Homo sapiens: one gene and its partners. The protein of the gene in region 3 purifies or fractionates together with the protein of the main gene of each other region. This does not show direct contact. Each region holds a gene or a part of one and is shown on either strand. Other genes may lie near its edges. The genes, in order: RBP1, CLTCL1, EEF2K, LRRFIP1, EPB41L3, UBE3C and ACTR2.

Region 1 (4,072 bases), on a different chromosome or scaffold from region 3:
TTATCTGTAAAATGAGGCTTGAAAGGGTGTTGTGAAGATTAAGTCAGCTAATGTAACGTTTGAATAGCATCTGGCATGACAGTAAGCACTTGATGAGTACTGCATTTGCTAGTATTACTAGGTGATCAATAAATGTTTCATGTGTTAATGGATGAAGAAAGGAAGGAAAGAGTGAAGATAATTAGTACAAGCCAGCACATGCCAGATTTGTGGTGACCCAAAATAAAGGTTCGATGTGATCTGTGAGTTCCACAATAGTGAGTGGGGGTAAGGATTATTCTTAAGGAGCAAAGTTCCATGCAGTGTGCCGGGGAGCAGGTCTTGGGCAGTAATGAGAAAGGCAGATGCCATCTGAAGGTCTCCTTTCCTATTGTGAGTCTTTCCTGCAGATTAAGAGTCCTTGAGATTTTTAAAGGCACAACCTGACATTTCTCTGCAACAATGGTGTTTTCTCCCATTAGTGGTCCTTCCAAGGCCACTCCCTGCTGACTACCCCCTCTTTCCCATCATTCCAAACAGCAGACTCAGATACCAATCCTGACTGCCTTCAGATGAATAGACAAGGTGGGGGGATGAGTCATCCAGGCTCCAGATGCCTATTCCCAGACATGGGCATCCCTTCAACTACAATCCTAACAGACCTCAGCTATCTTGTTTCTGCACAGACTACCAGCAGAGAAGCTGGCAGAAAGCAGGACTGTGGGCTTCAACATCAGAAGGCCCAGGGCTCAAGTCTCATCTCTTACAAGTCTCTTCCTCTGTCTGAGCCTCAGTCACTGCATAACATGGGGTTACTTATCCCTCCCTCACTGTGCTGTGCTGTAAGATGACTAGCACAGTGCTGGACACACAGCAGACCAGCGGTAAAGACCCTTGGTAAATGGTGGGAGGTGGTGGGTGAGGACCCCATCAATAAGCAAGGTGGCTCCTGGGATGAACATAAGCCACTTCTGAACCCAAGACTATAAAGGGAGAACAAGAGTACCTTGACCTCCCAGCAACCAGATAATGTTGATGGAGGCCTGGGGCTGGCCTTCCGGCATCTGCTGTGGCAGTACTAATTGGGATGTCCTGGGTCAGGAGTTTCCCACCCTTGTGGAAGGGAGCTCTTGGCCCTCCCTCTTCCCCCACTGCTGTTTCCTCTGGTCTGGGCTGGAGGGGCCCTGACTTACTGAATAGGTGTCAGCTGCAAAGTTCAAAGAATGCTCAGTAGGCATTGGATGACAGGGTGGGGCAGGGGATGGCCAGGAGCCAAATCCCAGCTCTGGGGCAAGGATGGGCAGATCAGGGGGCTTCCAGCAGAGATCAAGGGGCCCCCAGCTTCCTGGAGTGACTTCACACTAAGTCATACTGAAAGTTTACACTTCAAAGGGGTTACCTGTGTTTCTTTTTTCTTTCCTCCTTTCTTTTCTTTTACCCTCCACCAGCCCAGTCAGCCAGAGAACGGCATCAACAGACATGCTTTGAACTCCAGACCCTCCCTAGCTGTGCTACTCTGGACATGTTACTTCATCTCTTTGAGACTGTTTCTTCATCTGTAAAATGGGCATATTCATATCTCCCTCAAAGGCTGTGTGAGGCTTAGGTGAAGTCATGTGCATAAAGCACCGGGCAGAGTGCCTGAACGCAGTGGAGACACAGCACATGGCAGCCTTCATAACCATCACCTTCCAGTGTAGATAGAGCAGGATGCTTCATGAGTTGGTGCTGCCCACCATGGGGGCTGAGAGTGGGAAGAGTTTTCAGTCCCTCAGGCCCTTGCCCCCTCTCGGATGAACTAGCCCAGCCCTTGGTCAGGCCCCCTGGGCAGGAGACACCAGGTGGACGCGAATCCTCACCATGCACTTGCGGTCATCTATGCCTGTCAGATCCTCCTCAAACTCCTTCCCAACCTGGAAGTCCATGATGTAGTTCCTAAAAGTGCTCAGCGTGCGGATGATCATATGGTCACCGTCCTGCACGATCTCTTTGTCTGGCTTCAGCAAGTTGGCGATTTTGCGCAAGGCCACATTGACGTCTGCGGTGGGGGTTGAACGGGGAGAGAGAGAGCGCCAGAGAGTTGGCAGGGAAACTCAGAGAACCGTTCCCAAGGTAGCGGGGCCCCAGGAGCCCTCTCCGCCCGCGAACACTGTTAGGGTTCCCGCTGGCTTTGCGTTGTCTCTGCGCACAGCCTGCCTGTGCCTCCCCTGCCGCCCCCAACAAAGTTTTCTGCTCTTATGTTAACCGTTTAAAAACAAAAAGTAGCAAACCAAGCCCCAGATTTACTAATGAAATTACCCACCTCCAGGGCCAACGAGCAGACATTTGCCACCGGTTAACCTAACAACCCCGAATTCTCCAATCTGCAGCCTGGGGGCTGCCCTGGGAGCGGTGGCCGAGGACGCCCTTTCTGGCGTCCGGGGGCACCGGACCGCGGCTCGCCGGGATGGAGGCAGGCAGGCAGCGTCTCGGGAGGGCTCTAGGGAGCGGCCCGGAGCTGCTCGGCGGGGCGCCCAGGGCGCAGCGGGCAGCGCTTACCGAGGGCGCGCAGGTACTCCTCGAAATTCTCGTTGACCAACATCTTCCAGTACCCAGTGAAGTCGACTGGCATTTCGGGGAGTGACTGGAGCCAGTTGGCCACAAGCGGGCGGGACGGCTGGAGACTGCCGGGACAGCGGCTGCCGGTGCTACGCGGGTGGTGGGCGGCCCGGAAATGAGCGCCCTCCGGGGACAGGGGGCTCTGCGGGGCGGCGACAGCTGGATTCCCAGCGCGCACAAAGCCTGCGGGAGGATCCATTGTAGCGGTCGCTCCTCCCCGCTTAGCGAGGGCGGGCGCAGGGGCGGGGGATGTCGAAGGGTCAGGTTTGTCCAGGCCGCGCCACCTTCGTTTCAGACGTTCAGTTCGTTTCCCCTACAAAGGAAGAGGAGACCGGAGACGGGACGTTTGCTTTGTTGGCCGAACTCTTCGGCTGCTGGGGATTTCCTTCAAACGCCATTAACTTCTCACACTCAGCAGCCACTCGGGAGTTGGGAAACAATCTCCTGGGGTTTGTGCTGGCGTGATTAAGGAAAGAGGCCACTTACAGGCCTTTGTCTAAAGCCTCGCGCCGGTGGTGGCTGGGGTCAGGAAAGCTGGGAGGTTCAACTACGGGCGAGAAAATTGGGGCACTTTCCACGTCTCTCCCGAAAATAAAAGAAAGGATGCCGGGCACGGCGGCTCACGCCTGTAATCCCAGCACTTTGGGAGGCCGAGGCGGGCGGATCACCTGAGGTCAGGAATTCGACACCAGCCTGGGCAACACGGTAAAACCTCGTCTCTACTAAAAATACAAAAAATTAGCCGGGCGTGGTCGCGGGCGCCTGTAGTCCCAACTACTCGGGAGGCTGAGGCAGGAGAATAGCTTGAACCCGGGAGGAGGAGGTTGTAGTGAGCCGAGATCGTGCCACTACACTCCAGCCTGGGCGACAGAGTGAGACTCTGGCTCAATAAATAAATAAATAAATAAGTAAAATAGTTGATGTTATTTGAAGTGCATGTGGCTAAAAAAGCCTTCTGGGTGATTCTGATGCACAATCAACTTTGAGATCCACTGCTGCTTTATGCAAATGTAAGCAATATACTGTTTATTAATGTTTCCTCCCGTTTCACCTAATGGCAGCACTGTACTCCACGGTGTTCTGGACTTTGCTTTATTCACTTAATATATTCTGGAGACTTTTCCATAGCTGTACATAGAAAGTATCCCCATTATTTTACGGAGTATTCCATTGCTTATCCAGCTTGTCCCCTGATGGACAAACTATATTGTTTCTGATCTTTCACTATTAAAAGCAGTACTGCAATGAAAATCTTTGATCACATCTCCTTTGTCACCTGCGTGGGTATGTCATTGTGGTTTAACTGCATTTGCCACCAAGTAGATGACATAATCACATGGGCTGACTTTTTGACCCTCTTTTTGACTACCTCTTTTAAATCGCTTTTTGCACAAATCACAGCCTAAGTGACAGCAGATAACATTTTCTTCCCCTCTAGCACCACCTTCCCCAGGGTGCCTCCCTGGGGCTCACATGTGTTCTCACAGTGCAGGCT
Region 2 (3,500 bases), on a different chromosome or scaffold from region 3:
GTGTAGGTACCACCTTCTGCCAAACACAATATCCAATTAAATGAATTGATTTAATGTACATGGAAGGCACAATTAACTATACAAAGAGCCCAGACCACAAAGAAGTTTCCTGATCTGTGTGCAAACACAGCCTGCCAGTAAGCACACAGGGATAAGATCTGGGAGTCTGCCAAAATATCAAATTAACATACAGAAGGAAGAGAGGGAGAGAAAAAACAAGATAAAGCTCCCAAATAAAACGAAGATGGAAGGACTGGAAAACTAAGGATAATAAAAAGCTGAAGAGAATAAAATATGATCATTATGAATAAAGATCCTAACAGCAACATTGCCAACTCTCACACCAGAGGACTTACAAAGAAGGGTATTTTATAAACTTTAAAATCAGCAACCACTCAACCACACGTGAGTAATCTGTGAGATGCCAGTGGTTCAACACACGTTACCTTTTTGGCATAGAGCACAATTTTCTGGAATTGGCCTGTTTCTGCAAAACACTGGATCACTTTGCTTGGCACATTTGCCCGAAGGTACACACTCAGAGCGAGCATGGGGTCAGTGGTTTTGACCAAGTCTCCGAGCTCCTCTGAGCACTCCAGCTGTGGTATGCCAAGGGACAAGGCAAAGTTAGGAGGCAGGTAGGGAGCCTGGACCAAGTTTTCAAGCTGTGCGGGGGGGCTACGAGCTCACAAGTGTTTCTACCTTATCTTCTTTCAGCCACTTCTCTAGGAGTTGCTTACGCCCCTGCTGAAGAACCAGATGGCAAAGTTCTAAGGATTCAAGTTTATTGAGCTGACCCTGGTCGAGCAGGATTCCGAAGTACTGCAGCAATGGAGAAGCCTGGCCAGACTGAGCGGGTATACTCTGGAATTTCTGGACCGTCTCTCTGGTACGCAGGATTCCCTAATAATAAATGGAAAAATAGGTCATTGTGTTGTAATCACAGGGGATCCCTTCACTCAACTTCCTTGTATGTAAAAACAAAAATCTGCCAGTGGAAATTCCACACTGCTCTGTCATAGACAAAAAGTCCTCTACCAAGGCAACTGCTTCTATCTTCAACAATAACCATAAGTATAGGGGAATCTAGGTCCTCCAGGTGGCTTCACACTTAGGGTCTTACTTCTCCCCCAGCATGCTGCAGTAAGAATTCGGCCTCTCAATCAGTCTTGTAGTAGTGAAGTTCTGCTATCATTATATTCTAATTCAAAATACTCAAATTCACAGATGAAGGCTAGAAATGGTTTGTTCACAACTACCCCTTGAAAGACAAGAAAAATTCTTTCAAGGACAAGCAACTTGAAAGTCTTTATCTACTCAGGAACAGATCCAGTCTCTGAACAATTTATCCAAATGAAATAAACCCAAGAAAAAGCCATATGCCGAAATGCTATATTCTAAAAGAGTGGAGAAAGTCCAGGGTAGGACTATCGCTAGATAAAACAGGGAACAACCACTTGATGTATTGTACAGTTGCATATTTGACAACCAGGTAGCAAGAGTGGAAAATGCTAAGTTACAGAAATGTGAAACTGTATCTAAGCTGTTGGGTGAGAGGTACGTATGCACACAAAGTGGGAGGCGTGAAGAAGTGCCGATGCAGCAAGAGTGTGTTTTTTGTTTACTTCCTTTACTGTTATGCCATTGGTGCAAAAATTTTAAACTAAAAACTCCTAACATAACACTAATAGACTGCAATATCACTAGTGAAATGCTTTTATGACTTATTTTCCTCTCAAGGTTGGTTCTTAACACTCAGAACACTTGAACAGTATTCAAGGTTTATCACCTTTGGTGCAGACGCTGCAACTTTGGCGGCTTCAGCATAGCTGCCCTGTGCAAAGAGGGTATTGAATTTTCTCACAAACAACTTCTCTGCCCCAGCCAGGTTACTACGAACGGCCAAACGCAGACCAAGGTCTGGATTCTGAAGCACGTTGGTTGCATAATTCACAATGTTATCTTCCTCAACACAAACTGACAGTACCTGTAAGGACACAACAAGTGAGAGCAGCCCGGCCTAGAAGAGTGCTCCACCATCCCTCTGCCATGTTCCCTTCCGATGCTGGAGTGGTAGCCACATTCTCAGGCGAGTGTTGAGCACACCTGTGATGGTGGCCCTCACAGTGAAAGGAGGCAAAGCAGCCGAAAGCCAAATGGTAACAAAACAGAACAGCATAGGAGTCTATGTAGTTATTAAAGTCACACAGATAAGTGTGATGCGTTCTGCGCTACAGCAAAATGACCTATGTGGATGGAACTGACAATTTTTCTTCTTAAACTTTTTATTTTTAAAGTACAGAGTTTCTTTCTTTTTTAAAAAATATTTTTGTAGAGACAGGGTCTTACTATGTCGCTCAGGCTGGATTCAAACTCCTAGCCTCAAGCAATCCTCCTGTCTCAGCCTTCCAAAGTGCTGGGATTATAGGAATCAGCCACTGTTCCCGACTTTTTTTTTTTTTTCCCCTGAGACAGGCTCTCACTGTTTCACCCAGGCTGGAGTGCAATGGTGTGATCACAGCTCACTGCAGCCTCAAACTCCTGGGCTCAAGCCATCCTCCTGCCTCAACCTCCCATGCAGTTGGGATTACAGGCATAAACTATTGTGCCCAGCCAAGAGTTTCTTCTTTTAACTATCTTTTTCAACTATGGTTGAGAAAAGTTACTTAAATACCATAGTATCTGCTTTTTCAACCCTCCCCAGTTAGGGTGTGCATGGTATAAAGATGATGTGCATCAGAACTGCTGTTCTATACGCAGGAAGGAGCTGCTCTCCTCCTGGAATCAATCCTGTGTTAGGAATGGTGCTGTCTGAAGAGAGGAAGTGTCAATATGAAGGAGGAGACATGGGTTTAAGTTTAATAACAGGAACTATTAATAGCTACACCCAGCTGCTTTCCTAGAGAAGGGGGAAAGTTTAAACGCCAGTCCCTAATGAATGGAAAAGGTAGAAAATGAAATGTCAGAGTTACACACCTGTCCCTTTTTGTTGACACCAATAATTCCAGAGGTTGGTTTGTGTGGAGCAGTGACAAATATTGTGTCAGCACTAATACGGTTCATGCAGATGCACACGCCAGACTCTAGGTCGTACAGATGAAGATAGCCATACTTTGTGATCAAGTAAATAACACCATGTTTAGCTCCAATCTATAAGAAGACAGAGAGCAAGAGGTTGGAAAGTAAGGAGGAGAAGCCATGCGGGTAAAAAGAGCTCACAAATGATAAAGAGGATTCTTGTTTGTTTGTTTGTTTTTTGAGATAGGGTCGTGCTCTGTCACCCAGGCTGGAGTGTAGTGGTGCCACCATAGCTCACTGCAACTTCCGACCTCTGGGCTCAGGTGATCCTCCCATCTCAGCCTCCAATGTAGCTGGGACTACAAGTGTGAGCTGCCACACCTAGCTATACAAGGATTCTTCAGTTTCTCAGGCCGAGAGATTACTGGTGGGAGCAATGCTTTCCTGAGACATGGATTCTAAGTTGTACTTGATTGAGAATT
Region 3 (3,500 bases):
CTGCCTCAGCCTCCCATAGTGCTGGGATTACAGGTGTGAGCCACCACACCCCGCCTCTACTAAGAAGTATTTCTTTTTTTTTTTTTTTGAGACTGAGTCTCGCTCTGTCGCCCAGGTTGGAGTGCAGTGGTGCGACCTCTGCTCACTGCAACCTCCGCCTCCTGGGTTCAAGAAATTCTCGTGCCTCAGCCTCCTGAGTAGCTGGGATTACAGGAAACTGCCACCATACTCGGCTAATTTTTGTATTTTTAGTAGACATGGGGTTTTGGCATGTTGGTCAGGCTGGTCTTCAAATTCCTGACCTCAAGTGATCTGCCCCCCTTGGCCTGCCAAAGTGCTGGGATTACAGGCGTGAGCCACTGCGCCCAGCCTCTACTAAAAGGTATTTGTTTTTTCTTTTTTTTTGAGACAAGATCTCGCTGTCACCCAGGCTGGAGTGCAGTGGTGTGATGATGGCTTACTGCAGCCTCTGCCTCCCAGGCTCAAGAGATCCTCCTACCTCAGCCTCCTGAGTAGCTGGGACTACAGGTATGTGCCACCATGCCTGGCTAACTTTTGTATTTTTTTGTAGAGATGGGGGTCTTGTCATATTGCCCAGGCTAGTTTCAAATTCTTGGGCTCAAGTGATCTGCCCACCTTGGTCTCCCAAAGTGCTGGGATTATAGGCATGAGCTACCATGCCTGGCCAATTTTACTAAGAAATATTTCAAACACACACACAAGCATAGAGAGTATTATAATTTGCCATAATATACATTTGTGAGAATGCAGATAAGATGCCTTCAGTTTCTTACCACCAAGTCAACCCAAAGCTTCAGGAAATGTTCTGTTTATCTAACTGGAGAGCTAGGTGTGAAGAGCTAGAACACATGGCTTACTGTGCTATGTGTTACACATCTAAGACCCAGTATTAGGGCTCTATAGGACAACCAACACATGTGGGGTCAAACCAAACCTGGAGCTGAGACTGGCATTTACTACAAGATCGCATTGTTGCTGACTGGGAGTCCCTCTTCCCTAACCATCTCTGGGAACTGCAAGGGACCCACCTTTTCTCAGAGGAAAGCTCAGCCTTGGACTGGAGGCTGACATTCATCTGCATCCTCCCTAATTCCCCCATTCTGTGCCCTCCTGGCAGTGCCTGGGCTAGGCTGCCCACCTCCGAAGCTGAAGATTCACTCTGGGAGTGAATCCACTCCTACCCCTGCTGGGGTCTGAAGCCTGCAGCCTCCCTCCCTTCACACTCACCCGGTGGTTGTCTAGATGATCATGGTCTCTGGATGCCATGTTATCGAGGTCACTGAACACTGGCCAATCTGGGCAGGGAGAAACAGACATCATGTCCTGGTTCCACTACTGGAACATGCATAAGACCAACCCACGGCCTAGGGCGGTCCATACCTGCCACCAAGCCTTTTTTTTTTTTTAAGCTTTAAAGAAAGGCACAAAAAAGGAGAAGAATGTTATCAGCACCTGGAGGCTAAAGTTCTTCCTTGAGAACTTATTCTAAGTCTGCTGTTTGCCAGCTACATGATTCTGGCCAAGTGGTGTCACCTATGTGTGTCCTCAGGGTTGTCACAATGCAATTATCCTTGTAATGTGTTTATTAGCATATGTGCCTGGCCACCACTTGGTCCTCAATAAAATGCAGTTGTGAAGGAAGAACAGACGTTTATACATTTGGGGCTCAAGAAGTGGGCCTCAGATAGCTTCAAAACCATCTTCAGCTGGGCACGGTGTCTTATGCCTGTAATCCCAGAACTATGGGAGGCCGAGGCAGGTGGATCACCTGAGGTCAGGAGTTCAAGACCAATCTGGCCAACATAGTGAAACCCCATCTCTATTAAAAATACAAAAATTAGCTGGGTATGGTGGCATGCACCTGTAATCCCAGCTACTTGGGAGGCTGAGGCAGGAGAATCGCTTGAACCCAGGAGGTAGAGATTGCAATGAGCCAAGATCACGCCACCGCATTCCAGCCGGGGTGACAGAGAGAGAGATTCCGTCTCAAAACAAAACAAACAAAAAAAAAACACCAACCATCTCCTGGTGGTTCCCTATCTCTGTCTCCTGCCCTCTACAGCCAAATCTATCTGTCTGTTTTTATAGTTTGTAAGAACAGTGTTTACATTTTTAAATGGATGACAAAAATTAAATTTCACCATCCATAGAGTTTTATTGGAACACAGCCACATCCACTCACTTAATATTTTCTATGGTAGCTTTCATGCTCCAAATGCAGAGACTGAATGACCTGCAAAGCTTAAAATATTTACTCTCTGACCTTTTAAAAAAGTCTGTTGACTCCTGTTCCAGACTATTCCAAAGACCTTCCAGTGGAAACATCTAAAGGGCTTCTTTAATGTTTGACACTAAAATCTTTCTCTCTTTCAAAGGTATCAAAATGAGAAAAATTAAAAAACTAAACAATAAAATCTTGCTCTCCTGCTCTGAGCCTGCTCCCGCTCACACTTTCCCTGAATACATGACCTCCAGCTCTTTAGGCCAATACCCTGGGGTCAGTCTTGCCTCTATCCTTTCCTACAGACTCTCATCTGAATCATCAGCAAACTCCACTCTTTCAGTGTCAGAAATAATGATTCTGTTTTTCTCCTTTGACCCATTAATATCACATTCATAGCTTTTCTAACATTGAACAACCCTCAGATTCCTGTGAAATCCCTATTTAACTGTGACAGGTGAACCTTTTAACATAGTACTATTTTTATTTGTTAATATCTATTTAGATTTTTTTTTTGTTCTCTATACACAAATACAAATTTTAAATAAGGTTGGGATATAATTTTCTTTTTTAGTTTGTCAAATTTATTATATAGGTTTTGCTGGTTTCATAAAACACACTGATAAAAGTTACTTTGTTTCCTACAATAGGGGTTGTTTTTATAGCATTTGGATGATCTGTTTTGAAAGTTCACTCAATGAAACTCACCTATAAAACCACTGGGGCCATGAACCTTTTCGATTAGCATGTCTGATTTTTCTAACATAAATGAAAGCTGGTTTAGCTCTGCTCCACCTGTCCCCTCCAATCACAGTGACTAGGGACCGAACCGTCACTCACGGAGGTGGTCTAGCTTCTGGCTGTGTGGTGTGGCCGAAGATGGGGAAGAAGGGAGAGAGTCGAAGGTCACGTCGCTCATGTTCTCGTCTCCAGAGTTCTCTGAAAGGGGACGGAGCAGGGGTGGCCGGCTCCCAGAGAGGGTCCTTACTTGGGGGCTCCCACATTTTTCCTCTGTTCCTCTCAAGATGGTCTTGGCTGATTGCTAGGGACATTAATAGGGATACTCATGTCACGCACACACCCTCTGGGAATTAAAGGGCTCTTCCTGTTGTTCCCTCTAACCCTGAAACCCCTTCATCCACAGCTCCTAAACATGCCTGTTTAGGAGCTGATATATTGTCTTAAAAAATAAAAAATCAGTCAGGGATTAAACCTAAGGCCTCCAAGAAAGGGCATCTGGAACAGAGGCTCAGAGGAC
Region 4 (3,500 bases), on a different chromosome or scaffold from region 3:
CCTAAACTCTCCAGGTATTTTATTTGTTTTATGGAAAGTATATCTCAGATCTTAGAGAACTTTCCAAGCAAATAAATGAATTATTCCTTTGCTTTTTGTCTTCTTCTTTTTCTCTTTTTGAGATGGAGTCTCGCTCTGCTGCCCAGGATGGCGTGCAGTGGTGTGATCTTGGCTCACTGCAACCTCTGCCTCCTGGGTTCAAGCAATTCTCCTGCCTCAGCCCCCCGAGTAGCTGAGACTACAGGTGCAAGCCACCACATCTGGCTAATTTCTGTATTTTTAGTAGAGATGGGGTTTCACCATATTGGTTAGGCTGGTCTCAAACATCTGACCTCAGGTGATCCACCCGCCTTGGTCTCCCAAAGTGCTGGGATTACAGGCACAAGACACCATGCCCAGCCCAATTCTTGATGCCTGAAGCTATGAAAATCTCATATTTTTTTGTTTTACTATCTTTATTTGCTCAGCTAATTTGACATTTTATTTCGCTCTCAGTAAAAGAATACCATAATGATGGGTTCCTTTGTTTGAGCTGTGTAGACACTAGAGGTTAGCCGTTCTTCCCTGGTGTATGTCTCAGATTAATTTTCAACTTTCTTTTCCAGCCTTACTAGTCCCTTAATCAAAAACAAAACTCCACCTGCAGGCACCAAATTAGAGAAGTCTGACTGGTTAACATTAAGCAATGTTTCCTCCTAACACTGACATGGTGGTCAAGGGCACTGGCCTCAAAGGCAAGAGACTGGGTTCAAATCAGAGCTGCTTGCCCCTGCCTGAGGAACCACTGTCTGGTACCAACACTTCAGCCGCCCTGTGTGGCTTCCTGTTCACACTTTGTGACATCTCTCTTCCTGGCCTTTGCTCAAATTGTAGTCACCATGTTTAGTGCCTCCCTCTAAAATATGAAAGGGTAGCTGAGGATCACCACACATCTGAGAAAGGCTCCAAGATGACAGAGGCCAAAACACACAAAGGAGGAAAAGAAACAGACCAGGATGCAGGGAACAAAAAAATTTTCAGGAAAACCCCCAAATTAAGTGAATTTGCTTAATATCCTTAGAGTAGTAAGAAAAGGTACTGCATTAGTGAGTCAAGAAAGGATGCTATAGAGATAAAGAACAATAAAAAAACTTAGCAATTCAATATAAAACAGGTAAACTTAGTAGAGGGAGTGGATGGTAAAGTTGAAGAATCTTCCTTGAAGTATTACCAAAAGACAAAAAAAAAAAAAAAAGAAAAGAAAGGAAAATGAAAAATTACTTCTTTTTCTGTTCTGTCTTACAGAAATTACTGTAAGACAGAACAGAAAAAATGATGGGGCTAGGAAAAAATTCAAGAAAATTTCCCAGAATTTTAGGATACAAGTTTCCAGATTGAATGAACCCAATGAATGCTCAATAAGTGGGGGAAAAATCCAGAATTCTGAGAATAAAGAGAAGATCCTAAAAGTTTCCAAACTTTTTCTTTTAAATTTTTTTTTTTTTTTTTTGAGACAGAGTTTTGCTCTGTCAACCCAGGCTGGAGTGCAGGGGTGTGATCTCAGCTCACTGCAACCTCTGTCCCCTGGGCTCAAGTGATCCTCCCACCTCAGCCTCCCAACTAGCTGGGACCATAGGCACAAGCCATCATGCTTGGCTAATTTTTGTATTTTTAGTACAGAAGGGATTTCACCATGTTGCCCAGACTGGTCTCAAACTCCTGAGCTCAAGTGATCCACTCACTGCCCTCCCAAATTGTTGGAATTACAGGTATGAGCCACCACACCCACTCACTTTTTCTTTTCTTTTTTGTGGAGATGGGGGTCTCACTATGTTGCCCAGGCTGGTCTTGAACTCCTGGGCTTAAGCGATGCTCCTGCCTCAGATTCCCAAATAGCTAGGACTACAGGCATGCATCACCATGCCCAGCTAAATAAAAAAAATATATTTTTAAAGGAAGGGTCCTACTTTGTTGCCCAAGCTGGACTTGAACTCTTGGTCCTAAGCTATTCTTTCACCTTAGCCTCCTGAGTTGCTGGAATTACAGGTGTGAGCCATAATGCCTGGCTCCTAATTTTACTTTTTTGATATTTATTAGTTTATTTTATTGACTAGTTAATACAGTCACATGGTTCAAATATCAAGAGCATGAAGAGTGGCACTTGACAACCTGCTTCCACCTCCATCCCCACACTCCTTTCATTGTGTTCTGCCAGTGATTTTTATTCAAATGCAGGAAAATTGCAGCCTTTCTCACACAAGGAACAGCATGCTATCTTTATTTTCTGTATATTACTTTTTCCAATTAACAATACTTACTGGAAATTATGTCAAAGAAGACACAGAGTTCATCATTTTTTGGAAAATTATTTTTAACCTAGAACTCTATACACAACCAAAGTATCAATCAAGTATGAATGTAGAATAAAGACATTTTCAGACATGTGAATACTTAGAAAAGGCATTCTTGCTCCGAAAGCTACTGAAGGATGTGTTCCAGCAAAATAAGACAGCAATCCAAGAAGGCAGATAATATGGAATCCAGAAAATAGGGACCTAACAACAACAATAAAAAGGGGGTAAAAGAAATTCTCAGAATGGTGGCAGAGGGAATGGCAGGTGCAGGAAACCCTGAGGAGAACATCCAGACCAGACTGGATCTAGAGGACAGAGGTCTCTAGTGGGTAGATTTCCATGGGAGAATAAAATGGAATTGATAGATTATCTGCTTTGTTTAATCATATAGAACATAGCATTTTGATGGGTTCTATTGAAAACTTTATGGAGATATGTAGATATATAGATAGATAAGCTAGATATGTAGGCAGATGAGCAATGAAAAAGAAAATAAATCATTAACTCTAGAAGAAGCAGAAAGTTGTATAAGGAAAGAAAGATTATAGTACACTGCTTGGCTCTGCAATTGACATTATTTACACAGCTGGCAAGATCATCATCATCACCAGCATTTACTGAGCATTTACTATGTGACAGTCATTGTTCAGAGGTCTTTTTGTGAAAGATCTCATTTACCCTCATAACTGCCCTGGGTGAAGTATACTCCTAAAACTTTCCCATCTTACCTATGGGGGAACTGAGGCACAAAGTTGATAAGTAACTTGCCCTAAGTCATGGTATAAGGGACAGAATCAGGATTTGAACCCAGGAAATCTGATTCTAGCACCCATATTCTTAAGCAGTCTGTCCTGCCAGTGAATATTCATTTAGCCCCACACTACAATGAACTATAGTGTGATGCAGAGAAGGAAAGTAGGGAGCTGGCCTGAACTGGGCCCATGCACACCAAGTCCCGTCCTTCAATGCAGGAGCCAGCTGACAGCATCTGCAATTGATAAACTAATGTGTAATACATATGTATGTTATTTATAAACAAGGAGATCATTACCAGATCATTGAGGGTCTTGTAGCTTGTTTAAGGACTTGGGTTTTACGGAGTGATACAAGACACCCTTGGAAAGTTTTTATCAGAGAAGTGGCATGATCTGACATATTTTAAAAGGA
Region 5 (3,500 bases), on a different chromosome or scaffold from region 3:
ACTAAAATACAAAAAATTAGCAAGGCGTGGTGGCGGGCGCCTGTAGTCCCAGCTCCTTGGGAGTCTGAGGCAGGAGAATGGCATGAACCTGGGAGGCGGAGCTGGCAGTGAGCCGAGATCTCGCCACTGCACTCCAGCCTGGGTGACAGAGCGAGACTCCGTCTCAAAAAAAAGAAAAAAGAAAGAAAAAAAGAAACCCAAGCATTCTGAGTCCAAGGCCAGGTTTCTTTGCTCTATGCTAAACATTTTCTTCAACCTTAGTACTATTTATTTATATTATATCTTCTTTCCAGGTTAAACGCTCATTTGACAATAGTGAAGAAGCTGGAAAGTCATTAAGACAAAAGTCGTTAAGACAGTGTGTCTCAAAATGTGGTCCTGGGACCACCTGGATCAGATTTCACCAAAGTACTTGTCGGGACATAAGGAGGTCTGGATCCAACTGCAGATCTATTAGATGATAATCCGTGGATTGGTCCCCAAAAATTCCTTTTTAATAAACTCATCAGGTAATTCTGTTGTATAACCACTGTGTCTCATTCTTTGCAAACCTCTACTGTTATCTGGAGTTTCATACTCAAAAAATTCTGCATTCTCATAGAGGGCCATCTTTTGGATTACGGGTTTTGTGGTGGAATGTCACAAAATTCTACACTCATCCTGAGGGTCATCTTTGGATCTTACAATTACTAAGACATGTCCCTAAAAACAAGCAAAGAGGACAACAGCATATACTACTGAAATGAGAAAACATGTACTATGTGTATACTCTCATTAGACTGGTTCTAGATGTCTTCAAACACAGATCTCATTTCAACCTGGAGGTAGGCAGCATCGTCATCTGTTCACTCTGGGGAACCTTGCCTAGAGAAATAGAGTACTCCTCCCACAGTTACCTAGCTCAAGGTTAGCAGATGTTTCCATCTGTATCTTCTCTAGCTCTTTGTATTTTCTTTATTCTGCAACAAGGATTCCCCACCACTGGGCCAAGGACAGTGGTGGTGAGCGGTGGGTGAGTCAGCATTACCACCTGATCTCCGCCTCCTGTCAGATCAGAAGTGGCATTTGATTCACATTCTTGAGTGAGAATGTGAGAATGTGAACCGCACACGTGAGGGATCTAGGTTGTGCATTCCTTCTGAGAATCTGATGATGTGAAGTGGAACAGTTTCTTCCTGAAACCATCCCCCACAACCCCCGTCCATGGAAAAACTGTCTTCCATGAAACCCCAACCTCTGTGCCAAGGACAGGGCCACACAGCAGGAGGTAAGCAAAATGGAGGTCCTTGGTGCTAAAAAGGTTGGGGACCCCTGTTCTACAATATAACTCCCCCCAATGAATTACTGCTCTCATTTCAAGAATTCAGAGGAAAAGTTTTCCAGACTTCTTGAGCAGACAACCTAGTCAATCTCTATTTTCCAAGTCTTATACTTAGCCAGTAAGCATATTCCTTCTAAAGTTAATAAAAGTTGTCACTGAGTAGCACAAAATGGTATAAAACACCAAAATTCATCAAGAATAATTCTCTGTAATGAAACTACCCAAAACTCCCTATATCTCTGGGATGTTAGTAACTCTAGGAAAAAATTACGTAGAAATATGCAACTGTCCGGGCCAGCCTGAGACCTCTAGATGCCCCGATGGCATCATCTCACAGAAGCCTGGGTGCACCATTCCAGCTAGCACCACCTTCAGGATCATAAAGCTATTCTCCCCAAATTGGTGAATGAAGACTGGATTCCAAGTAAATCCAAGATCAGTCAAAATCATGGGATTGTGAATAACATAACAGAGCAGCCCACATCCCTGACGAGGTGGCATAAAATCTGTGAATGGAATATGACATTTGTTACCATTCTGTTGTTGAGGACGAAGGAAGGGTTGGGAACTCAGAGAGAGATCAAAGGAAGCTTAATATTTTCCATCTCTGGGAGCCCAGTGACCCCGTACACCTACTAAACTATCCCAGACCCTGGATATTTTGATTCTGGAGAGTCTAGTTCAGGTCCAGACTGCTGCATCTGCTGTCCCTCGAGGCATGCCAAGAGGCACATGGGAGAATGATGGGCACCCAGGAACTCAGGTTAGGCTTTGCTGGATGAGCTCGCCCCTCTATAAAGAGATGACATTAAAATCTAAATTTAAAAAAGTCAGGAAATCTATGGTGAAAATTTGCTTGTTTTAGTTTGTTAGAACTCAATATTCACACACAACATTGAGATATACATAATAATCATCAGAGATTTTAATTTTTTTAAATATCCTGTTTTACCACAAGCCTCCTGATGTGTATATTAGAAGAGAGTCATGAAGTGTAGGCAGCAAGCAGAAGGAGGCAGAGGGGCTGGACAACAAGGCTTCACATCAACACCATCATTAAGGTAATGATCCTTTATCAATATTGCACAAGACCAAAAGAAAATATTTATTTACCATTAAAAATAATGATGTGGGTATAGATTTGCATGCATGAAAAAGCTCCTCCGAGACATACTGTTACATTTAAAAAAAAAAAAAATTTGGCCTGGTGCGGTGGCTCACACCTGTAATCCCAGCACTTTGGGAGGCCAAGGCGGGCAGATCATTTGAGGTCAGGATCATTCGAGACCAGCCTTGCCAACGTGGTAAAACCCCATGTCTACTAAAAATTCAAAAAAAAAAAAAATAGCTGGGCAGGGTGGCGGTTGCCTATAATCCCAGCTACTTGGGAGGCTGAGGCAGGAGACTCGCTTGAACCTGGGAGGCTCACTTGAACCCGGGAGGCAGAGGTTGCTGTGAGCTGATATCGTGCCACTGCACTCCAGCCTGGGCAACAGAGTGAGACTCTGTTCTCAAAAAACAAACAAACGAAACAAACAAACAAAAAATGGTTACATAGAAGTATTTAAGACAGAAGTCTATTCATGTAAAATATTATGTAATCTACATATGAGTCTGTATATGTACAAAATGATGCTACTGCTATTTATGAAGCACTTGTGATATACCAGATACTGTGCTCAGTGTTTGCATGTATTACATCATTTAATCCTCATATCCTTCAGATATAAGCATTATGCCCATTTTATAAACGAGCAAACAGGCTCTAGGAAGTTAAAAGAACCATGCCACATAGTTATTAAATAGCAAGGCCGAGAGCCCAACCCAGGTGTGTCCTATTCCACTCTGATACGTAATACATTCAGAAAGGTAGATAATGACATTGCCTTTTTTGGTTTTTCTGTATTGTTAGACTATATTTTAAAGTGAGAATGTATTATTTTTAATATCTCAAATAACTGAGATACATTCATTGAAAGGATAAGGAAAATCTTCCCATATTTCGTATATCTCATTTTCTACCTTAAACAATCCAAAAGTAGTATTTAATCCTCAGTTAAATACTCCCACAAAAAGATGGAATGAATTGCCAAAATATCAATCATTGAGAGAAAAAAACATCACATTCAATTTCTGCAAAATTTTGGATAACTCCATTAACTAAAGACCATCTGTCTCC
Region 6 (3,500 bases), on a different chromosome or scaffold from region 3:
CTGCCTCAGCCTCCTGAGTAGCTGCAATTACAGGCACCTGTCACCACGCCTGGCTAATTTTTGTATTTTTAGTAGAGATAGAGTATCACCATGTTGACCAGGCTGGTCTCGAACTCTTGACTCCAGGTGATACACCCTCCTTGGCCTTCCAAAGTGCCGGGCCTCCTCCTTTTTTCTTTTTTTTGGAGACAGAGTCATGCTCTGTCACCCAGGCTGGAATGCGCTGGCACAATCCAGGCTCACTGCAACCTCCACCTCCAGGGCTCAAGTAATTCTCCTGCCTCAGCCTCCCACGCCCAGCTAATTTTTTGTATTTTTAGTAGTGACGGGGTTTCACCACGTTGGCCAGGCTGGTCTCAAACTCCTGACTGCCTACCTCGGCCTCCTAAAGTGCTGGGATTACAGGCATTAGCCACCACACCTGGCCAGCAATGAGGATTTCTAGGGCAATGACACTCTTCTGTATAACGCTGTAAGGGTAGATACATGTCATCATATATTCGTCAAAACCTACACAATGCACAACACACAGTGTGAACCTGAATGTACACTATGGACTTCAATTAATAATAACACATCGACATTGGTTTATCAATTGTAACTGATGATCCACATTAATGCCAGATGCTAGTAATAGAGAAAAGTGAGGTGAGGGAGACTAGGCATATGGGAACCCTACCCTCTGCTTGATTGTAAACCTGAAACTGCTCTAAAAAATAAAGTCTATTTTTTTTTAAAAAAAGCACTGGACAAACATTAAAGTGATCTTAATTCTACTCCCACTATTGTCAGATCTACAAAAACTTAAAAAATTTCAGTTCCTCCGGTCTACAAACTTTTCTATATCCATATTCATCCCTAGCTTCTTTAAGTCTCAAAATATTTCCCATTGCCTGCTCCCACTCAGTTCTCCCCTCTCGGGTATTCTCGAAGACTCTGAAAGTTATGCCACTCCTGTCTTCCCCACATTTTTAACCCCCGTCCTTCCCAGTCTATAAACTTAAGTTTCCCCCGTCTCCCAAAACAGACAAAACTATTTCCGAGACACCGAATTTCCCTCTATCATCCAATCTTCCGGTGCTTTTCAAAAAAGGTCTACACTGTTGCCTTGCCCCTGCCTTATTTTTTAAGAGATGGGGTCATGCTGTGTCGCCTAGGCTGGAGTGCTATGGCATGATCACAGCTCACTGCAGCCTTGAACTCCCGGGATCCAGCGATCCTCCCGCCTCAGTCTTCGGTGTGGCAGATTGTAGGCGTGCGCCACAGCATCCGGCCTGTGTTCGGCCCTGTTTGTGACTTCCCATTCACTCTCCAATGTGCTATGCTCTTGACTTCCAACTCTGACTACCCTACAGAATATGCTCAAATCACCCAATTCTTCCCAGCTCCGCAGTCAGTGGACTCACTGTGTCTGTGCAGCACTTGGCATTGCCTGTCACTCCTCCCTCCCTGAGATTCACTCCCTGGACACCACTCTCCTCCACTCCCGGAGGTGTGACTCTTTTGTAAGTATCCCCAACTCCCACACATATTAAATGTTGCAGTACCTCACGAGTCCCACCCTGTCCCAAACTCCAAGTCCTCTTAAGGACCTGTGTTCGAAGCCACCATTCTGTTGATAACCCCCAAATCTGCATCTCTAGCCTAGACTCCTTCCTGTGCCTGTCCCACAGGAACTCAGGCATTCAGTCAACGACCACTCCCCGCTTCTTGAAGAATCTACCCCAGCCCTCAGGTGCACCTAGACTGTTCCATCTGAACCAAGCCTCCAAGCCCTCCTCAGACTGAGGTTATCAGGTGGAAACATGACCCAGGCCAATCAGACTTTCCTCTCCTGAAAACTGGTAATTATGATCAAACTTTCTTGACGCTTAAGCTAGGAAACCATGTGTGAGAAATGGAGAAAGCCAGTCTGCAGAGCCAGGAATGAAGGAGACAGGAAGAAGGGAGTGCACCCAGCTCCTGGAGAAAGACAAGCAACTCCTGTGGTGGTGATACCTGCTATCTGGGTGTTTCTGACCTTTCTATTCTGTCAGACACGCCTATCCTTTCATAAACTTGTTTTTGTTTCTTTTTGTTTTGCCTACTAAGCTAGTTTTAGTCCATTTCTGTACTTGAAATCAGATGACCCCGTGATATTCTTCTATACACTACCAAGAAAAACATACCCCCAATTAAACTGCATCATGCTATCAGTGTGTATCCCGATGTCAGAAATATTTAAAGATAGAAATCAGTGTGACTTAAAAAAAAATTTCAGGCTGAGCGCAGTGGCTCATACCTGTAATCCCAGCACTTTGGGAGGCTGAGGCAGGCGGATCACCTGAGGTCGGGAGTTCGAGACCCGCCCGACCGACATGGAGAAACCCCATCTCTACTAAAAATACAAAATTAGCCAGACGTGGTGGTGCAGGCCTGTAATCCCAGCTACCCGGGAAGCTGAGGCAGGAGAATCGCTTGAACCCGGGAGGTGGAGGTTTGTGGTGAGCTGAGATCGCACCATTGCACTCCAGCCTGGGCAACACTGCGCTCCAGCGTGAGCGAAACTCCATCTCAAAAAAAAAAAAAAAATTCAACTTTTATTTTAGAGTTAGGGGGTACCTATGCACGTTTGTTACAAGAATATACTGCAGGACGCGGAGGTTTGGGGTGTGAATGATCCCATTACCCGGGGAGTGAGCACAGTTACCAACAGGTAGCTTCCCAGCCCTTGTCCCCGTCCCTCTCTTTCCCCCTCTAGTAGTCCCTGGTGTCTATCATCCCATCTTTATGTCCATGTGTAATCAATGTTTAGCTCCCCAAAGTGACTTTGAATCAATGTAATCCAATCTACATGTACTCCACACACCCCGCTCCACGAACCTGGAATGCCTTCTCGTCTTCCACCCATCCTAATTACACCCATCCTTCAGGACTAAGCTCCAAACAATTCTACTTTTTCTGAATCAGGACCAAGGGAAATTTAGAATGTAGCAATTACTCTATTGTTATTTAATTTTTAATTGCTTAAGTCTTATCTGCCCAACAAGATTATCAACTTCTTCAAGTCAGACTTGTCGTACACAGATCTATACAAATAATAAATACTAAAAGTATTTAATTTGAAAAAAGAAAAAGCTTATTCAAAGGTGGTAACCACTCCATTTTCCACTAAGCTCCAGAAAGGGAAGATTTCAAATAATAATTTAAGACATGAGAAAAGGGTCACTATAACTTCATTTTTCCAACAAGGGAAGGGACTTATGCGGCAGTCAAAGAGAATTCAGGAAAACAAGCATATGTAGGTGCTCAACATAATTAGTTGTCAGGAAACAAAATTAAAACCACAAAGAAACTACATCCTCACTAAAATTAAAGGACTTGCAATATCAAGTGTTGGCAAGGATGTGGAAACCTGGATACCTTCAGATGCTGTGGGCGTGCGACACGGGGAAACTGTGGCAGCGGTGTGCACAACAGCTGAACATGCGTATCATCTAGGACCCAGCACAAGAGTATTA
Region 7 (3,500 bases), on a different chromosome or scaffold from region 3:
TTAATGGAGGGGACTACTTATATATTCTCTTGATATTGCCATTAGCAACTGCCTCCCTCTTTATTGGAAATAAAATATTGGCCACGTTGGGAGAGCTCTTTTTTTTTTTTATGGTCTTATAAATTCAACAGGAACTTACTGAGAATGTCTGGGCCTGTCAGATATGTGCCAAGGAGTCTTTTAGGCACTTCAGGGGATAATCCAGTGGGAAAAGAGTGTGGCACTGGAAATGGGTCAAGTGTGTTTGGAGAAAGGCCAGTATGTGTGTGACCTGATGGAAGTGGTAGAAAATAAGGTGAGGTGGGTAGGGAGGGCTCTTTGGGAAATAAAATGTAAATTCTTGCATTAGTCAGTGTTCCTGGGAGTATTTTTGAATTGATGATGGTGTGAATTCCTCCTTTTTTTTTTCTTTTTTGCAATGGAAATCCTCTTCTTTTTAAAAGAGTACAACATTCAAGGGCTGTATATGAGTTTTATGAGGCTTATTGCATCAAGGAATTATATCCACTTAAAAAGGAGGTAGTTTTAGGCCGGGTGTGGTGGCTCACGCCTGTAATCCCAGCACTTTGGGAGGCCGAGGTGGGTGGATCACGAGGTCAGGAGATCGAGACCATCCTGACTAACACTGTGAAACCCCGTCTCTACTAAAAAAAAAATACAAAAAATTAGCTGGGCATGGTGGCATGTGCCTGTAATCCCAGCTACTTGGGAGGCTGAGGCGGGAGAATCGCTTGAACCCAGGAGGCAGAGGTTGCAGTGAGCTGAGATTGTGCCATTGCACTCCAGCCTGGGCGACAGAGTGAGACTCTGTCTCAAAAAAAATATGTAAATAAAAATAAATAAAAAAAGTTTTTTTGACCAGGTATGGTGGCTCATGGCTGTAATCCCAGCACTTTGAGAAGCCAAGGTGGTCAAATTGCTGTATCTCCAGAGTTTGAGACCAGCCTAGGCAACATAGTGAGATCCCTATCTCTATAAAAAGTAAAATTAGCTGGGTGTGGTTGCACATGCCTATAATCCCAGCCACTTGAGAGGCTGAGGTGAGATGATCACTTGAGCCCAGGAGGTTGAGGAAACAGGGGAAACAAAGCAGCTTCTTTGCTGTTCTTTTATTATGAGGTTTAACTGACATTGCCTTTTATTATAAGTTCCAGTGAATAATCAAAGTGATGCTTTGGCTAGCCATGTTTAATTTTTCTTAGATTTCTAGCTGTCTAGTATCAATAGGCATTTTTCCAGAACACACAGTATATGTTATTTGTAGTATATTCAAAACTATCTAAGTTGAAAAAAATAAAGAATTGTACAGAGCTTTAAGAACGTGTTCTGCTGGGTGTGGTGGCTCACGCCTGTAACCCCAGCAGTTTGAGAGGCCAAGGCAGACAGATCACTTGAGGCCAGGAGTTCGAGACCAGCTTGGGCAACATGGCGAAACTCTGTCTCTACAAAAAAATTACAAAAATTAGCCAGGCATGGTGGTGCATGCCTGTAGTCCCAGCTGCTCAGGAGGCTAAGGTGGGAGGTATGACTTGAACCCAGGAAATGAAGATTGCAGTGAGCCTAGATTGAGCCACTGTACTCCTCCAGCCTGGGTGACAGAGCCAGACCCTGTCTCAAAAAAAAAAAGGAAAAAAAAGTCCTGTTTTTCAGTCCTCAGTCTCAGGGTCTGTTTCTTCTCATCTCCTTGGACAGCACATAATAGTAGACTAAAAGTCTTAAAAGAGAACACTCGCTTTAATACTTATGCATTAGAAACAAACTGCAAAATAACTAAATAATAAATTCTGGCTTCTAGTTGGTTACGTTTCTGTTTTGGCTTCCCTACTGTATTTGGAACTCGCTGGCTTTGGTTTTCCTGATTTGACTTTTTATTTAAATCCCCCTGGCTTTTATGCAGGTTTATTGACTGGTGTAGTGGTAGACTCTGGAGATGGTGTGACTCACATTTGCCCAGTATATGAAGGCTTTTCTCTCCCTCATCTTACCAGGAGACTGGATATTGCTGGGAGGGATATAACTAGATATCTTATCAAGGTAAGTGAAAGGAAAATATCATGGAAATTAAATTTTGTAATTTGTTTACCACCTTAACACAGAATTGAATCTATCGTTTTAGGATTCCAGCAAATCTGTACCACTAGAGAAATTATCCAATTACCTCCCTTATTTATATAAAAATTCATATAAGATTTATACACATGAAGAAAAAAGAAGATACATTAAAAACAAGGAAAAAAGTGTACACACATGATCTCTGTATACTAATGAGAGTACATTATATCATTACATAATTATATTTGTTATTCCTGAGGAGTGAGTAGACAGATATTTCAAGGATAGAAGAGACCCCTAATTTGAAACTTTCTTGGACAGCTCAGGCAGCCTTTTCTGCCATAAAACCTTTCTTTGAGCAGGTATGTTTTAAGCCATGATCTTGGTTGGGTTGTCTGCTCTTGTCCTTTCCTACAAAATACAGTGATAGCAAATTAATGATATTTGAGGAAAACAGCCCAAATACGCCAGACTTTAATATTTAGTAGTTTTCATGGAATAGATGCAGTTTTTAATATTTACTATTTTAGTTTATTTCTGAATATAACTAGTTATAATTTTCTTTAAAACATTACTGGAGAAAGTACATAAGGTGTCTACTTGCTAACATATATCATTTTTAATATTAAAATAAAATTTAGAAAATTGTTTATACCACAATTCTATAATCAGTCTATCCTCTCCAGGACAGTGGTTCTCACCAGGGGACAGTGCTGTCCTCTGGGGGATATTAGCAATTTCTGGACACATTTTTGGTTGTCTGAGCTGGGCAGGAATGCTACTGAACATTCTATAATGAATAGGGCTGGCTGCACAACAAACAATGTATAGTCTGTCAGTGGTGCTGCTATTAAGAAACCCTGTCTCTGCATTAAATTGGGTTGCACTGTCTTTACCTTGACATTGGGTTCCTTCAGTCTCATTTAAAGTAATCCTCCTCATGAGGGGAGATTAAATTAATGAGAATTATAATACTCTCATTTTAGGCCAAAATTCAAAGCGTAACTAACAGAATTTCTGGGGTTGTCTTTAGAACACAGACTCAAATATTAGAGGATTTTTTTTTTATTTGTAAAGTCTAGTAATTTTTTTTCTCTCAGTGGGTTTTTAAAAAAATAGTAGTATTTTCTAGCATTTAAGAAATGTAACAATGGAGATTATACCTTTGAGTATCCCAATAATTCCCTTATCATTCGTTAAACAAATGCTATTGTCCTTCTAATATGTGCCAGACACAGTACTAGAAGCTAAAGATAAAACTTTTAAAGACTTGGGGGCATTTCATAAATATGGCATTAATTGTGTGAGCAAACTGCAGGCTACAGGAGTCCAGTACTAAAATAATATTTATTCATTAATATACTTTTGATTGTTTATCAAAACTATCAAAACATTAGTACTCATGCAGTGCTTTTCAAAAACTGACTTTTCTAGTCATTTTACTGACT

Evidence for each region.
Region 1: the proteins of EEF2K (region 3) and RBP1 purify together in Homo sapiens (affinity purification with mass spectrometry; one large-scale study listed by BioGRID and IntAct). This does not show direct contact.
Region 2: the proteins of EEF2K (region 3) and CLTCL1 purify together in Homo sapiens (affinity purification with mass spectrometry; one large-scale study listed by BioGRID and IntAct). This does not show direct contact.
Region 4: the proteins of EEF2K (region 3) and LRRFIP1 fractionate together in Homo sapiens (co-fractionation; one large-scale study listed by BioGRID). This does not show direct contact.
Region 5: the proteins of EEF2K (region 3) and EPB41L3 purify together in Homo sapiens (affinity purification with mass spectrometry; 2 studies listed by BioGRID and IntAct, with this or other methods). This does not show direct contact.
Region 6: the proteins of EEF2K (region 3) and UBE3C fractionate together in Homo sapiens (co-fractionation; one large-scale study listed by BioGRID). This does not show direct contact.
Region 7: the proteins of EEF2K (region 3) and ACTR2 fractionate together in Homo sapiens (co-fractionation; one large-scale study listed by BioGRID). This does not show direct contact.

The regions. Positions count from the first base shown.
Region 1 is NC_000003.12:139,536,943-139,541,014, forward strand, and holds the start of RBP1 (retinol-binding protein 1), read right to left. Parts: upstream 2,801-4,072; 5' UTR 2,777-2,800; coding exon 2,518-2,776; intron 2,018-2,517; coding exon 1,839-2,017; intron 1-1,838. UniProt on the Homo sapiens protein: Cytoplasmic retinol-binding protein. Accepts retinol from the transport protein STRA6, and thereby contributes to retinol uptake, storage and retinoid homeostasis.
Region 2 is NC_000022.11:19,232,720-19,236,219, forward strand, and holds part of CLTCL1 (clathrin heavy chain 2), read right to left. Parts: intron 3,151-3,500; coding exon 2,977-3,150; intron 1,988-2,976; coding exon 1,790-1,987; intron 904-1,789; coding exon 703-903; intron 600-702; coding exon 447-599; intron 1-446. UniProt on the Homo sapiens protein: Clathrin is the major protein of the polyhedral coat of coated pits and vesicles. Two different adapter protein complexes link the clathrin lattice either to the plasma membrane or to the trans-Golgi network.
Region 3 is NC_000016.10:22,258,278-22,261,777, reverse strand, and holds part of EEF2K (eukaryotic elongation factor 2 kinase), read right to left. Parts: intron 3,285-3,500; coding exon 3,083-3,284; intron 1,317-3,082; coding exon 1,249-1,316; intron 1-1,248. UniProt on the Homo sapiens protein: Threonine kinase that regulates protein synthesis by controlling the rate of peptide chain elongation.
Region 4 is NC_000002.12:237,634,087-237,637,586, reverse strand, and holds part of LRRFIP1 (leucine-rich repeat flightless-interacting protein 1), read right to left. Parts: intron 1-3,500.
Region 5 is NC_000018.10:5,533,998-5,537,497, forward strand, and holds part of EPB41L3 (band 4.1-like protein 3), read right to left. Parts: intron 1-3,500. UniProt on the Homo sapiens protein: Tumor suppressor that inhibits cell proliferation and promotes apoptosis. Modulates the activity of protein arginine N-methyltransferases, including PRMT3 and PRMT5.
Region 6 is NC_000007.14:157,141,926-157,145,425, reverse strand, and holds part of UBE3C (ubiquitin-protein ligase E3C), read right to left. Parts: intron 1-3,500. UniProt on the Homo sapiens protein: E3 ubiquitin-protein ligase that specifically catalyzes 'Lys-29'- and 'Lys-48'-linked polyubiquitin chains.
Region 7 is NC_000002.12:65,251,831-65,255,330, forward strand, and holds part of ACTR2 (actin-related protein 2), read left to right. Parts: intron 1-1,897; coding exon 1,898-2,034; intron 2,035-3,500. UniProt on the Homo sapiens protein: ATP-binding component of the Arp2/3 complex, a multiprotein complex that mediates actin polymerization upon stimulation by nucleation-promoting factor (NPF).